Linked DNA regions of Homo sapiens: region 2 is linked to region 1. The links come from fine-mapping of genetic effects on gene expression. Tissue or cell type: whole blood. Region 1 holds a variant in brackets; the other region holds the start of a gene. All regions are shown on one strand. Distances are from middle to middle.

The links. PIP is the estimated chance that this variant, and not a neighbour inherited with it, causes the effect.
Region 2: CDH23 starts here. The variant in region 1 is fine-mapped to the expression of CDH23 in whole blood (TOPMed, PIP above 0.99).

Annotation. Positions count from the first base shown.
Region 1 is chr10:71,690,094-71,698,093 of GRCh38, forward strand. It overlaps CDH23 (cadherin related 23), which reads left to right. Exons shown (of 70, transcript NM_022124.6): 20 at 375-491; 21 at 4,054-4,166; 22 at 5,325-5,432. Among named protein-coding and RNA genes, the nearest start is that of C10orf105, 26 kb to the right of the region's middle. RefSeq lists an enhancer at 3,960-4,029. The variant A/G (reference allele first, on the strand shown) is at 4,742.
Region 2 is chr10:71,392,009-71,400,144 of GRCh38, forward strand. It overlaps CDH23 (cadherin related 23), which reads left to right and starts at 4,912. Exons shown (of 70, transcript NM_022124.6): 1 at 4,912-5,310. RefSeq lists a silencer at 4,431-4,520 and an enhancer at 5,204-5,715.

The DNA of each region.
Region 1 (8,000 bases):
TAATTTAATATGGAATTTCATGTCTTTTGACTCCAAGTGACAGTTGGCCAATCTGAGTGTATTTAATATAGTGGCCAGCCAAGCAGGGGCCAGGGAGACAGGAAGACATCAGAGGGCCCAGTCCATCCCTAAGCCTCTCATGAGCCTTGTCCCCACCCAGCCCAGCGATCTCAGCTCCAAGAGCAACGATTGAGCCGCCCTTGTCCCAGGGATGTCGCAACAGGCAGGCCTCCCACCTCCCTGAGAGCTGGTCACTGGGAGGGTCCCACGTCCTCCTCTTGGGCCAGCGCAAATGCTGCTCCCAGGGCTGGGGCCTTGAAGCCAGGGGCCCAGGGTGAGCAGCACCCCCTGCCCCCACCTTTTTCCCCCTGAAGGAGCCACGGTGCTGTTCCTGAATGCCACAGACCTGGACCGCTCCCGGGAGTACGGCCAGGAGTCCATCATCTACTCCTTGGAAGGCTCCACCCAGTTTCGGATCAATGCCCGCTCAGGTGAGCCCCCCCACCCCAAGTACCCTGGTCCTCCACACCCTGAGGCTGACTGTCCATACCCGGCCCCAGGACCAGCCTCTGGGCCCAGGTCCCCTTCCTTTCAGTTTTGAGCAGACCAGCTTTGAGCACCAGTGTAATCCATGAAATATTAATTTGAGTGTGATTACTGATCTTACCCAAAAAATCACAACGTGAATTGACCCAGTGAAGGACGTCTTTCAAGGGTGAAGAGTTGTATTATGTTTTAAATGTGCTCCATCTTACAAAGAGCTGGTTAACACACCCCTCTTCAGGAACACCTTTATTAAAGCCTCAGGGTCCCCCTCCCTCAGCTGCTGACCTCATTCTTAAAGCCTGGCTCCTCTTCTTACACGGATGTGTGCCTCAGTTTCCCCACCTGTAAAATGAGGAAGATCATATTAGGGCTGTTGTGTGGATTAAATGATACATAATAGGGAGCAACTTTGATTAGTCCCTGGCACACGAAAAGTGCTAAAAAAAATTACCATCATTATTCTCTTTTGTTTATTCACCTGTGAGCCCCCTGCCCCCAGCTCCCAGCTCAGCCCATGTAACTCTCTTCTTTCTTCTTCGTCTCTCCATGTACATTCCTCAGTTTTCTCTCTTCCTTGAAGCTGGGAGAAAAAGTGGGCAGAAAGAAGCAGCAAGAGATCCAGGCTTTCAGCCAGACCTGGGGAAGAATTGGGACTTCTGTACATTCATTCATATGTTCATTTATTCATATGTTCATTCAGAAATTGGGGTGGGGGCTGCTCTGAGCCAGGTGCTGGGGTACAGGAAGGAATAAGACATGGCTCTGACCTCATGAGGTTGCTAGTCAGCTCAGTGGGCATGCAAGGCACCCCACTTCCAATACGCATTTCTGTATGAGTTAAAGGAACTGTCGATGCTAAACAGCTACACCCTATCTCAGTGGCTTGAGACAATACAAATTCAAATTCATATAGTCAACCCATGTAGATGTTGAGTGACAGCCTTCCACATGATGATTCTGGGACCCAGGCCCCTTCCATGTTGTGGCTCCAAGGTCACTGCAGAAGGGAAAAGAGAGCATGGGTTGTCAGAGCACTAGGAGGAGGTTATGGGCCAGGCCCTGCCTGGCAGTCACATCCAAGTAATAATTCTCCCCTGGGAAGGGAGCAGGAATCTTTGGTGGACACTGGCCATCCCTGCTGCAGGTGGTCAGTGGCCAGCAGGGCATCAGCTCTTCCTGCTATCCATCCCTCCACGTTGGAAGTCAGCCTTCAATCCCTTTTCCTGGAGGCTTGGGGAGCAGATGGCCGGTGCTGATGGGTACGAAGACTGAGGAAGGGGACCCAGGGCCACTGTGAGCCTCCTTTTCTATCTCTGAGAAAGTGAGGGCCCTCCTCCCAGCTCTCAGGAGCTTCCCCCACAGTGAGCCCTCATTCCCAGGGGTCTCAGAGTCATGTCATGAATGGATATGAACCACATGCCCAGCACTGTTCCCAGGGCTCTGAGCAGCAGCAGCATCTCATTCTGCCCTCCTCACCTGTGAGGCAGGTACTAGCCTTATCCCCATTTTCCAGATGAGGAAGCTGAGCCACTGGGGAGGTTAAGTAACCTGACTGAGGACTCGCAGAGCACGAACTTCTGACTCCAGAATCCAAACATTAAAGGCGCCATTATATGAGTAGCTCCCTGGCCTTTTAGCCACCCCCGCCCTTGCCTCCCCAGTCGGGGCTCCAGCTCCACCTGGGGCCTTTAATGACACAGACATTTTCTTGCTGCCTTAACACGACTTTGTCTCCAAAGGTGTAAGTGTTTTCCTCTGAGTTCCTCGGTCAAATTAGCCAGGGCTGCTCCACAGAGGTGGCCTTAATTGGATCTAATTTCCTAGACAGGAGAGGCCATCTATCATGCCGACAAGTTCACGTTTAAAACTTTTTAGAGATTAATTTCTTCCTCGCCCTGCCAATTACTTGACACCACCCTGGCAGGGAGTGTGGCTCGTTGGGCAGACCTTTGTGAGTCTTCCATTCCTGGCCTCAGCACCTAAGCTGCCCTGTCACCCACCCCCAGCTCCCTGCTCAGCCCCTGCACAGACCAGAGGGCAAGCCAGTGTGCCACAGAGGGAACTGTCAGGGTAGAAGCAGTCCTAAAAGCAATCTGGTCCAGCTGCCTTGTTTTATGGTGGAAAGAACCAAGCACAGAGAAGTTAAGCGACTTGGCCCAGGTCACACAGCTCAGGCAATGGGGATAAAAAGATGGATAGCACACAGGCCCTGCCCGTGGAGAATGCTCACGGTCCATTGGAAGAAAACAGTCATTTTCTGAGTGTTGGGAGCCTCACCTAGAATTACTGTAGCCTCACAACGGCTCTGCATGGAAGTCACACTAATCTCCATTTTATAGATGAGAAAACTGAAGCTTCAAAGAATTAAAATTCTCCAAGGCCAAGCGTCTGGGAAGGGCCATAATCAGAATTCAAATCCACATCTCACATCTTCACCACGTGGGTGCTCTCCCATGGCTGATGCAAGATAGTAAATGGCCTGGCTGCTGTGATTGCTGAAGTCTGCTGGGACTGGCTCACCCTGCTCCCAAGAGCTAGCGAGGCACTCAATTGTGAACTCCATATTCAATACCACCAAGTTGGTAGCTTAAAATGGGCCCTGGTGGGGCTATTTACACCAAGGAAATTGGCAAATGCCTTTTTTTTTTTTTATTTTGGGGAGCCAGTTGTCAAACATTTACCAGCACGCCACTATCAGGGTGATGTTTGCATTTCAGTTACACCAAAATACAAAGAAAGACCAAATACAGGCGAACAAGAAATGTTGTTTAATTGTTCAGATTTAGCACACTAAAACAACTCGAGGCAATGTAATTATGCTCTTCACAATGTAATTAGGAAATTATTTTATAACTATTAATTATCAATGCACGATAAGGTTGGATAGGTTGAACTGTCCAGTAATGAGTCACAAGTTAGACGCATGTGAACACCCGGTGTTTTTATTTCCTGTCATTGTATTTCTGTGACTGTATAAATAAACAGTGCCTGGCACTGTTCTAAGATTTCCATGATCTTAATTAAATTAACCCCACAATAGCCCTATGAGGTAGTTCCTATTATGGTTCCCTTTGGACCCTATGAGGAAACTGAGGCACAGAGGATTGAAGTAACTAGCTCCAGGTGAGAAAGCCAGTAAGATAATGTCAAAAGTCTAAACAAGAGGTGATCTGTGACTGAGCTTAAGGCCTAATGGCCCTCCTGCCCTGTTCTCCAGCCCCTAACCCCGAGAATCAGCCTAGATTTTCCCACATCTGCAAATATTTCCTCCTCATGGGGTTATGTTGCCCAGCCCTGGGGAACCAGCTCCCAAGGCACAGGAGCTCTCCCGTCTCCCACTGTGAGCACCAGCTCAGGAACACATCCAGGCCGCCAGATCATGGTAGCTTGCTAACATTTCTCGTGCAAGTTCTCACCCTCTCTCCTTCCCTCGCTCTCTCTCTTCTTCCCTCCCTCTCTCCCTGGCCCACCCAAACCCTCTCACGCACCCACTTCTCTCTCTGGCAGGGGAAATCACCACCACGTCTCTGCTTGACCGAGAGACCAAGTCTGAATACATCCTCATCGTTCGCGCAGTGGACGGGGGTGTGGGCCACAACCAGAAAACTGGCATCGCCACCGTGAGTGCGCTCCCCTCCCGTGCCCCAGCTCCCCCTCGCCGGCCAGGCTGCTGCTCCCTGCTTGTACCTCTGGACCCCCGTGTCCTGAGCCAGTGTGAGGCTTTGTGAGAATGAGCAAGGGGGCGAAAATGAACCCATCAGCAGCAGAGGTCAGCCCCCGGGGCCACCACAGCTGTGGGGAAGAAAGGCATCACCACCAGGAATGTAGGGGCACTTGGGAGGAGCAAAATGAAATACTTTCTCTCCTGCCCCTAAAAATCCAGGAGGGCAGGTGGCAGAAGGCATGAGCCCCATAGGCCCCTCCTTGCCTTGGTGCCTGTCAACAAAGCAGAAGCAGGCATTCCTGCGAGGAAGAGCAGCTCAGAGCAGGAAGCAGGGCCCTGGAGGGTCCCTGGGGGCTTGTTCTCCCCCATCTAATGTGCCCCAGAGAGTAGAAAGCTAGAGGAACGAAACGTGGGGGCCTCGAATGAGCTCTCGGCTGCAGAAGTGAAAGGGGAAGTGAGAAGCCCTCTGTGGGAGAGGAAGCGGGAGGACCAGCTGACAGTCACTCCAGCCACCTCCCCTCTTTGTTCCCC[A/G]TTCGGTTTCTTTGGCTCACCCTCAAAACTGTGGCCCTCACCCAGTCTGCAGCAGCCACCCCATCCTTACCCAGCCAGAGAGGCTGGAGACGGTATCGCGTGGCCAGGGATTTGATGGAAAAATCCCCAGTGCCCTACTCTGTCAAGGGAGGCTCCTACTAATAGGAATCAGAGCCCTATAAATAATGTACCTGGTGGCAGGTGAGCAGGGAAATTGCTTGGCTTGTAGCTGAGACGGGGAGGCTCAAGGGATTCTATTAGATCCCCCACCCTGTCAGTCACCTTCAGCCAAGACTGGAGGCAGGGATGGGGGAAGCCCCAGGTCACAGCAAGGATTTCAGGGCTTATCACATCCATTCCACTGCCTCCTGATGGGACAACACTGGAACTCTCTCTCCTGAAGCGGCCTGGCTCCTTCCTGCCCTCGAAAGCCCAGGCTCTGCCCAAGGCTCCCAAGGTTGGTGGAGCTGGCAGAATTAATGCGAAGATTGCCCGTGGGCATCTGAGCACTTTTCCCCTGGCAGGCCCTGCCCTGGCCCATCTCAGCTGGGTGTGTCTCCCAGCGCCCCTTATGGCTTCACAGGTAAACATCACCCTCCTGGACATCAATGACAACCACCCCACGTGGAAGGACGCACCCTACTACATCAACCTGGTGGAGATGACCCCTCCAGACTCTGATGTGACCACGGTAGGTGGTGGCAGAGCAGCAGAACTGCCAGGCGGCCCTTCCCAGGGGTCTGTGCCCCTCCCACTGCGATTCCAGGGGGCCTTCCCCTATGGGGCTGGTGGACTCTGTGTCCCTCTGAGCTGGCTCTTGCAATAGAGTTCTAGCGGTTCTCCTGCATGGTGAAAGGCAGTCAGAGGTCAAGGGAAAGCCCTCATCCGGCCTCCAGTGTCAGTAGGCCTCAGGCTTTGTCAAAGGGAGCTTCAGGCAGCCCAGGGACAGTGGCAGGGGAGCTCTGGCCGGTTCCGCTTGTGAGCCACACGTGCCCTTAGAGCCCAGGACTCTGGCCACCCCCTCTGGAGAGCTCCCACCCCTACACTGCACAAGCCCCAGCTCCACCCCAGCACCTGTCTTTCACTGCTGTGCCCCTGCAGTCATCCATCTGGGTCACCTCCCCCACGGGCTGGCCCCCACGGCTGCCCAGCAGGGGTTTTGTTCACCTCAGGAATTTTCTGGCACAGGTTTGCCAGGTTTGCACAGGCCCCTGTGTGTGTTGTGTGCTCATGTGCAGGAATGTGCACAATTCAGGGTGCAGAGGGGAGACACGGTCAAAGCCAGGGCATCTCCAGCGGAGACCAGAATCCTGGGGAAACTGAGGAAGCCCAGGTCCCACCCCCACACCATCTGCTCTGCTGGGAGGTCCACATTTTTCAGCCTTCTCCTCCCCCACCCTGTACACCACGTGGCCTTACTTGAGGAGGCTTGTCCCCACATGAACATCCCCACTGCCACCCACCCAGCCCTGTGGGGGACATGAATCCTGGCAATTGACTGAACACCTGGGATGTGCTCTGAGCCTCCCCTGAGGGCTTCTCAGGAACTCTCTCCTCCTCACTGTAATCTCACAAGGCAGAGGGATTCCGTTGCCACTGCACTGTGGAGGAGACAGACTTAGAGCTTAAAGGCTTGCCCAAGGTCCCAAAGCTAGTAAAGGGTGCGGTCAGGACTCGAACCCTGGTCTGTCTGACTTGGAGACAAGGGATTAGAAACCACCTGGCCCAGTCCTTATTCCTCTGGGAGGGGGCACCCACACACCAGCTGACAGCCAGTCAGTGAACAATGTGGAAAGGAAGATAGGCATGACGGCCAATCCTTCCCTCCCTCTTTGTCCTTCCTTCCAGGTTGACCTCCTCTCCCATCCAGAGCCACTGCCAAGTATGGCTCTGGCACTGGAATAGGCACAGTGGAATAGGGCAGAGGTGAGGGATCTGGAATCTGCGATTTTTTTCAAAGCCCCGTAGAGGAATTCCTTCCAGCCCAGGGCCAGGTTTAGAAACCAGGACCCTCGCCCTTTGACACAGCTCTCTAGGCTCTTTGGTGGGTGCTCTCTGCTGCCGCCTTGTGGGCACTGCACTGGCCCAGGGTAACCTCCTCCCCACCCCAGCCAGGGATTCCAAGAGCTGGGGCTGGATCTCACCTCTGAACACCTTCTGGTCAACCCTCACCTTTCCCTTAGGTTTTTGGGAAATTCCTCCCAAAGGGGATTGAGGGGCAGGTGAGGAAGGTTGCTCTGGGAAAAGGGGGCTGCACAGGACACCAGCCTGGATTGCCGTTATCAAATAGTACACCCGGCAGACAAGGCGTGGGTGTGCCAGGTGAGGACTGCACACAGTCTTGGGCATCTGCAAGCTTTGGTCCCCCCGCCCTTCACCAGGTCTCCTGCCCTCCACATGTCCTTCTGAGCCATGAGCAGGCATGGACAATGGACCAAGGACCTGCTGCCCAGTGCCTCCTCACTTTCCAGGAAATCCACGAGCTATCAGGGAATGCCTACTGCATGCCAGGCCCCACGCTTGTCAGGCTGAGGGTACAGGAAGCAACACCAGGCCAGGTGCAGTGGCTCACGCCTGTAATCTCAGCACTTTGGGAGGCCAAGGCAGGCAGATCGCTTGAGCCCAGGAGTTTGAGACCAGTATGGGCAACATAGTAAGATCCCCACCCCCTTTATAAAATTTTTTTTAAGTAGCCAGGTGTGGTGGTGCACACCTGTGGTCCCAGATACTCAGGAGGCTAAGGCAAGATGATTTTTGAGCCTGGATGATAGAAGCTGCAGTGAGCCAAGATCACACCACTGCACTCCAGCCTGAGTGACAGAGTGAGACCCTGTCTCAAAAAAAAAAAGGAAGCTCCCGCCCTGCCTGCCTTTGGGGAGTGTCATGTCACTCTTCTATTCAAACCCCAGTGGTTCCCATCTCACCCTGTGCAAAAGCCAGAGCCCTTGCCAGACCTACAAAACCCGCAGGGTCTGCCCCATTGTCACCCCTGAGGAGTCAGCCGCATCATCCCTATCTGTAGTACAGAGCGGGTGTGGCTGTTCCACCGCTGGCGTCAGGTGGGCACAGGCTGGAGATTTTTGGTGCCCCAGGGTAGTATTTGAGACCTGAAAAATAAATGTGATGACCTGAAAGTTCAAAGATAAAAGGGCAAAATCAAAATTAAAACTTGTTATATGAAACATCTATCAGATGAAAGATGGCAGCTTTAGTAACTATGAAATTTAGTGTTTGTGAAAATTTCATTACATTCGAGGAC
Region 2 (8,136 bases), 300 kb before region 1:
TGATCTTGAAGCCGCTGTACAGATGTGGCCGCTTCTGGAGATCCCTGGGCAAGATGCCCTGGATATGGAAGGAACTGTATATCACTTTTTTTCTTTCTTTCTCTTTTCTTTTTAATTTTGGGAAAGGGGAGGTAGCATTTCTCTAACAATGCTGACTCTACGCTGCTCTACACTCCCTACTACAATCACCAGAGGAATCATCAGATGGTCTGTACCAGGCAGGGTTCTCATGGTCGCTAGCAACAGAAATGAACTCTGGCTACCTGATGCAAAAATTGAACTCACTAGTTAGTTAACAGGGGCAGATTCAACCAGAAGACTGGAGGACAGGCCCAGACAACAAATAGGAACAAAAGGAGGCTGGTGGCTAAGGATGCAGCTGAAAATACAACCCAGGTCAGGCTTCAGAAGTCCTGGAGTCAGGGCTAGGTGCTTTGCATAGCTTCAAAATGATTCTTGACTGTTTACAAACGTTATGGTCCTTCTCAAGGTTCAAAGTTGAGAGTGGAGCTTCTGACTGGCTTGCCTAGTCATGCACTGTGCCCTGCAGGCAGAAGGCAGGACAAATGAGGACCTCCCTTTTTAGCTTTTGCAATTAAAGCAGGGCCTGGTCTTACCCCTTACTTCATACAGTGGGGGTCCCCCAGTAGGAGTGGGGTTTGGATGATGCTGGGTCCTGGGAAGTTGGCATCTCTGTGGCTCTTCGTGGCTGTCCAAGCGCTTTCATATCCACCCCAGGAGGGAGGCTGGGCAGGCACCATTCTCTCATTTTCAGAAATGGAAACAAGGCACAGAGTGGTTCAGCGACTTGTCCAGGACCACATAAGGTGGCAAGGGGTGCTTCTTTATCACACTGGTGTACTTTCCTTGATGCCCCAGGGGCTTGGAGAGGAGGCAAATGTTTCCTGAGGGAAGGGCTCTAGGGAGAACTTCGAGAGCTGTTGTTGAAACAGCCCTGATACGGTTTCAGGAATGGAAATCCCAGAAAGACAGAAAGGTGAAAACTTAGGTGATTCATCTCCTGGAATGAAGAGATTAGAATTTCTGAGATGCTGGTTCAGAGAATAGAGGCTGGGTTCTTCCCCCCAGCTCTGAGCCTCCTGCAAACGCCATCTCCTGCCTTTGGCTGGTTCATGTGCAGAAGAGCAAGACTGCTGTTCACCTCCGGGATCCAGTAGCTCCCATGGCTGCCTGGGGAGAGTCCCTGTGCATGCCTCCAGGCTTCCGCACATGCTGCTCCTCCACCTGGAGCGCCCTTCTGCTTCTGCTGCCTGTGACCTCCTGGTCAATCTCGGCTCACTGCAGCCAGCTCTGATGTCCCCTTGTCCAGGCAGCCTTTCTGGACTCAAGATTTCATGACAATGAATCACCCCACTCTCCTTTGGGCCATTTGTCCACTTTGCCACACTTACCTTTCTAGGTTGTAACTGATTCATCTGCCCCTCTCTCCCACTGGGAGTGCCTTGAAGACAGGATGGATGTCACTCACATCTGTGTCCCCGGTGTGCGGTGCTGGCCTGTTCCCCTCAGGGCCATTCTCTCCTCCCCTCTGTGGTGCTGCTCTGCATCACAGCAGGCTGACCCCGCAAACTCCCAGGTCCACTGTCTTCAGGTGGGAGACGAGAGGGCTGGGGAAAGAAGCCGGGATGTGTCTTCACACTCCACCGTCTCTGGCAGTAGCTGTGTTTCTGTGACTCGAGCCCACACCACACAGGCCCACTGTGGTCTCACCTTCCACCGTGTGCCCTGATCCTGGTCACTCTGCTTCCTCCCTTATCCCTCCAGTCTAGGGGTGGCACACTTTCTGCTGTTGCTGCACTCTGGGTCGCCTCGCCATCCAGTTAGAATTCTCAGCCCTTCCATTCCCTGTCTGTTACACACTCACGGTGGTTCTGTGGGCTGGCTGCATCCCAACTGACACCCCAGTTCCCAGCACGGTGCTTGGCACAGTGTGTAACAGAAGGTTTGAGGGGTGGAGAACCTTGAAGAACACCTCTTCTCATGCTTTCATTTTACGAATGGGGAACACAAGGCCAAGAGAGGTCCAGTGTCCAGCCCGCTACCATCCAGCTAGAGGGTGACCTAGAACTCAGATCCCGCTCTCCGGACTCCTGGCTCCATCACACTGTGTAAAAGCATGACCACCTAAGACATGTAGGACCACGACTCCAGTTCATTTGTCCAAGAGCCTACTTGGCATCTCTGTTCTGTGACTGCACAGGCCTCTCACACAACATGTCCCAAGGGAGCTCTTGCTCAGGTCTCCATAGTGGCCTCCTCAGAGGGCCCCATCACAGGAAACAGCACACTGTCCATCTACCACCACAAGCCAGAAACCCAGAAGTCTCCTTGACCCTTTGCTCTATCTCACGTATAACCACTCCCTGTCCTCCTGGCCCTGTAGATTTTTACCTCCTGAAAGTCACTTCTCTCCACTTCTACCCACCCCCTCATTCCAGGCCTCTGTCACCAATCACCTAGACACTGCAGCAGCCTGAGGACATGTAAGCTTCACCAGGGCAAGGATTTGTTTGGCGCAAGCATGCGTGTCTGTGTGCATGTGTGTGTGCCTGTGTGTGTGTGCTTGTGTGTGTTGTTCATTGACATATCCAAAGTGTCTAAATTCACAGGGGTTAACTAACGTTTTCTGTAAAGGGCCAGGCTGTAAATATTTCTTGTTTTTGCAGGCCATGCGGTCCCTCTTGAAATTCCTTATGTCTGTAGTTGTAGTGTGAAAGGAGACACAACCAAACAGGCCATGTCTGTGTGCCACTAAAACTTTCTTTACAAAAACATGTGATGAGGCAGATTTGACCTCTGGGTAGCGGTGTGCTCACCCCTGGTCTAGAAAATTTCTTGGCACATAGTATTTGACAAATAAATACTTTTAATTGAAGCAGTCTCTTCTCATCAACTGTTGCCTCCCAATCAATTCTCTCTCTCTCTTATTTTTTTTTAGATAGAGTCTTAGTGATCCTACTGCCTCAGCCTCCCAAAATGCTGCCATTATAGGTGTCAGCCACCAAGCCCGGCCTCTGAAGCTTTCAGTCTTAGGATAAAGATCAACTCCTGATTAAGGCCAACACACCTGCACAGTCTGGCCCCCACTCCATTGTGGCTTTACAGTCACTGCCAAGGACTAGAGGGACCACTCAGTGACTCGGATCAGAGAGGGGGTGCTTAAAGCCAACAGATGGTGCAGGCTCACTCACCCTCCCAAGCTTCCCAGGAGCGTTTCCTCGTACGCTGGAGGCACGGAGCTCTCCCCACCCTTTCTGGACTTCCTGACATATGCCAGCTCCTTCCCACCTTTGCACAAGTTGATTGCGACTGCGGTCACCAAACCATTGTTCCTGGCCCAGCCGTTGCCTGCAGTGGGCACCTGGGGCCTTTGCACATGCTGTTTCTCCTGCCTAAAACTCCACTCTCTCTCCCTTGCTCATCCTTCAGCTCAGTCACCTCCTCTAGGAGGTCTTCCCTGATCCCCTCGGCCAGGCGCCATTAAAGCACTCTTCTTCCTAGCACTGATTCTGGCTGTAATTTTACCTGCTTATGTGTTTCATTGATGAATGTCTGGTTCCCCTACTAGAGAAGCTTCATGGGGCACAAAGACCAAGCCTGTTTTGTTCTCCATCCTATTCCTAGAAACTATTTCAGTTAGCTAGCACATAGCAGTGACTGTGAATGAATGAATGAATAATGAATGAGCGAATGGTAAGGAACTGGAGCTTTGGAACCAGATAGATTCTGGGTTCAATACCCGACTCCACCACAGGGGCAAGTCCCCAACCTCCTAAAGCCTGTTTCTCACTGTAAAACTGGGATAATGGCAGGGCCCACCAGAAAGACTTTATTGAAGATAGAATGAGTTGAGGCCCAGAAAGTCTCAGCCCAGAGCCTGGCTCCAGGCAGGTACTGTCAATGTACTGACTGGAACAGTGACAGCTCGGAAATCCTGTCATGTGAGAAATAGTTTTAAAAAATCAGAATGCTTAGCCCCGGGGAAGTAAAGATCAAAGGTAGGGGATAAACCTCTTCCATTACCTGCATATGGACCCTTTCTTGATCCAGCTGTCTCAGAAAGCCATAAAGTCTCTGTCCCTATAGGTGTGCAAAAAGGAGCCGGGAGACCATGACTCGGGCACTGCAGACGGAGCTCCCGCAGGGGTGAGGGCGCCTAAGTGACCTCACGGGTCTCCTCCAACCCGGGGTCCTCCATTTCTAAGCACTTGGAGGCCTCTTGAGCTCTAGTGAGGGAGGAGGCGCAGATGGGAGCGCACGAGTCGGGTGGGCAAAGGCAGCTGGTTGGAGAGAAGCGTAGGCCAAGAGGCCCCAAGGACTAGAGGGACTGCTCAGCGACTCTGGGAGCAGAGAGGGGGCGCTTAAAGCCAACAGATGGCGCGGGCTCACCTAGGCCGAGCGCCCGCTCGCCCGCCCGGGCTTCCCGGGAGCGTTACCTCGCTCTGCCTGAGGCGCGGGGCGGACGAGACGCTGGGGGCCCCATCCCCCTGCGCGCCCCTCTGCGGGACGGCTGGCGGCCTGGCGGGGCACTGCTCTGTCTCGCACCTGGGGCCTCTTCCGCGGGCTTCCTCCCTGCCCCTTTGGGGGATTCGTAGAGTTGCCACAGCAGCCGGTGCCATGACATCGGCAGAGGGCAGCTTCGCCAGCACTGAAATATTCATGCCCTGAGCGCCCGGCGGGGCTCGGCGCCGCTCCCGGGGGTCCGGGCGGGGCCGGGCGGGAGCTCGGGGGTCCTGGCGGCCTGAGGGGTGGGGGAGCGCCGAGCGCGGGCGGGCGGGCGGGGGCCGGGCGAGGCGGGAGGTGAGGGAGGGAGCTGCGGGAGGCGGGGTCTGGACGGCGGGGGCCGAGCGGGGCGGGGGCCGAGCGGGGCGGGGGAAGCAAGGGAAAGTTGATCGCGGACTTGAGCGGCGGCGGCGGCTCGGGAGAGAGGGACGCGGGCTGCAGGCGCGATGCTTGGCTAGAGGACGCGTCCGACGGCGGCCGGACGCTGAGGTGGTCGGGGCTAGTCAGCCCGGCCTGGGCATGGAGCGCGGGGTGGCAGAGCCTCTGGACGTTTGGGGCGCGCCCAGTCCGAGCCCCCGGCGCGCCTGAAGTTGCGAGCGGCGAGCGGCGAGCGGCGAGCGGCCCGCGGAGACCCAGGAGCTGCCGGCACGCCGCGGATGAGCCTTCGCGCCGGCGGGAAGACGCGGCGGTGGCCAGGGCCAGAGCAGGCGGCCCGCGGGGGCCGATCCGGCGGAGAGCAGAGCCCGAGGCGAGGCGAGGCGCGGCGCCGCTGCACACACGCACACGGTACCCGGAGCCACGCACCGCCTCTTCCCTCCTCGCTTCCCTCTCCTTCCCCTCGCCGTTCGCCCGCCGCGCGGCGGGGAAGTTGGTGGTGACCGCGGCTGCCGAACCACTTGTTCCCAGCGCGGCCATCGCCCGTGGCGGGCGCTCGCGGCATCCTTCGGTCCCAGGCCCCTGGCCCTAGCCTCGCGCCCCGCTCCGAGCTCCCCGACGCGCGGCAACTTTGATTCCTGGGAACTCGAATTCCATTCGCGTTGGCCTTGGGAGGACAGGCATCCCATCCCCCATCCCCGGTCCTGGGACCGCGAACATTTGGGGGCTTTGCTCTCGGCGCTACGGAGAGGGTCCAGGTCTGGGGTGGAGAGATTTTCGAGAGTGGAGCGCGTTGGGATCCAATCCCCTCCCCTTCTGAGCCCTGGGTCCCCATTTGGACAGTGGGGATGGGGTGGGGCGCACCCCTACTGCGGGCTGGGCAGAGGCGCTGAGGGGAACTAAAGGCACGTAGTTCTCCCCTCCCCTCATCAAGTCCCTGTGCCCGCGGGAGACCCCAGGGGACTTACACATCCTCCCAAATTCGGTCCAGCTATGGGAAGACGCGCCCCTCGAGGAGCCGGGAGCCTTTTGCGGCTCTCGCTTCGCCTTCCTGGCCCTGGAACTGGTCCGCTACGAGCGGTGCTGGCTGCCCCCAGGAGCTGGCACCCGGGAGCACTGCCCCTCATCTCCACCGTAGGTCAGCCCAGGACTCGAGCAGAGCCCGCGTGTTCCAAGGCAGTGACGGCGCCAGCCGGCGGGGACTCTGCCTGGCTTTCTCGGAGCGGGCACCTAGAGAGGCTGCCTCCGTGCTGTGAGCGGAGATCCGATGCCAGCCGCCGCCCCACTGCGACCCCAGCCCCAGCCCTAGTGCTGTCAGCGGTCCACTGGGAGGAAATTAGCCTTTCCTCGGTAGTAATACTCCCCCATCCTCCCTAGTAATTCAGAAAGCAGAGCCTTCTTTTTCTACGTCCTTTGCCCTCTCAGACCAGAGCTGGCATTGACATTGACCTCGCCTTCCAGCCCCTTGGGAAGTGCCCCAACCCTAATTTGGATTTTGAAATAAGCTAGAGAGACACAGGAGTGTGTGTGTGTGTGTGTGTGTGTGTGTGTGTGTGTGTGTGTGTGTGTTGGGTGGAGTCAGACCCTCACACAGGGAAGAATTAGGTTGTGGGGTGTGGGGTGGGGCGGGCTTTAAGAACCTAGTTGGGGCCAGTTGCATGGTGATGATGAGTCAGCCCACGATGGGGAGAGCTGGCTTGGAGTTAGTGCTTGGTTCGTGGTGCAGGGGTAGGCGCACTGCGGTCAGCACCTACAGGGGTGGGGGCACTAGATGTTACTCTGCCAAGGAGGAGCTGGGAAGGGGCCCCTTGCCTGGGGGAATAGCAAGGCTTGGTTCTGGCTGCCAGGGCTGGGGAGGGCAGGAAGGCAGAGTGTCTCGTGGTAGAGGGTGGGTGTCCCCCGTGAGTTGGGAAGGTGGCACACAGAAGCCACTGGTGTGAACCAGGAAGCTCTGCCTCGAGTGCTGGAGGACAGCAGTGAGGGGTGGGAGGCCCAGAGCTAGCATCCTGGCCCCGTCTGTGCTGGGTCCGCATATACTTCTCAGACTTGGCCTTCCTCACCTCTAAACAGCTGGGCTCCTCACGTCTGCTTACCAAAGGGCTTGATTTGAGGGTTGTGATAGCAGATGGTCCTGGTTGCCTCTGGAATAGCTCCCCCACTCAACAAGCTACCTTACCTGCAGTTTCACCATTTGAGGTTCATTTATTTGAGCCAAGTATTTTAAAGGGCACCTTCCTGAAGTGCTCATTTAAAATGCACATTCTTCTGGGAGGTGAAGGTGTAGCGGAACCTTGCTCCTCAGAGTGTGGCCTGTGGACATGCAGCGTCGGCATCACCTGGGGACTTGTTAGAAATGCAGACTCTTGGGCCCCACCCCAGACCTTCTGAATCAGAATCTGCATTTGGTAAGATCCTTGGGTGACTCATGTGCTCAGTAAAGTTTGAGCTGTGGTCCACAGTGCCTTCTCTAAGAGGCATTGCATAGTTCCTTGGTGCAGAGTGTTGTATAGGGCAGTGGATAAGAACACAGAGATGAGAATGAGATTGGAGCTTCTCTCTTTGGCCAGTTTTGCTAGGCTCGGATTAATAGTCCACCACTGGCCCCTTCGGGTTGTACCATGCTAATGCCACAAGAGTGTTTGTGTTTTAGGGTTTTTTAAATAGATTAGAATAACATCTCAGCTTTGTGTGCAGTCAAAACTGTACATGGAACTGGGTGCAGTGGTGAACTCCTATAGTCCCAGCTAATGGGGAGGCTGAGGCAACAGGATTGCTAGAGCCCAGGAGTTCAAGGCTGTAGTGTGCTAGGACCGTGCTTGTGAATAGCCACTGTACTCCAGGCTGGGCAATATAATGAGACCCTGTCTCTAAAGAAAACCAACAAAAACCCCTGCACATGGGCCAGAAAGAGGTGAGTGGAGGGGGCAGGGTTTCCGGAAGCTGGGTGTACACACTCTGCCTCTAGGACGCCTGAGACGGAGACTAGATGCTGTCCCTCAAGCAGAAGGAATTGAGCAACTACTCTCCACCTCATCTGCCCCTCCCAGATGGGTGGATCAGCCAATTAATAACACCTCTCAGCGGCCTTAGGACTTATGCAGAGGGGAGGAGCATGAGAGCCAATTTGGAACAGCCTCCAGAGGGGAAGATACTGACCAAGCTCTCCCCTGACCCCAGCCTGGACTGGACATCCCACTTCTACTGCCCTAAGGTGGTTCGAGGCCTCTAGCTTCAAGA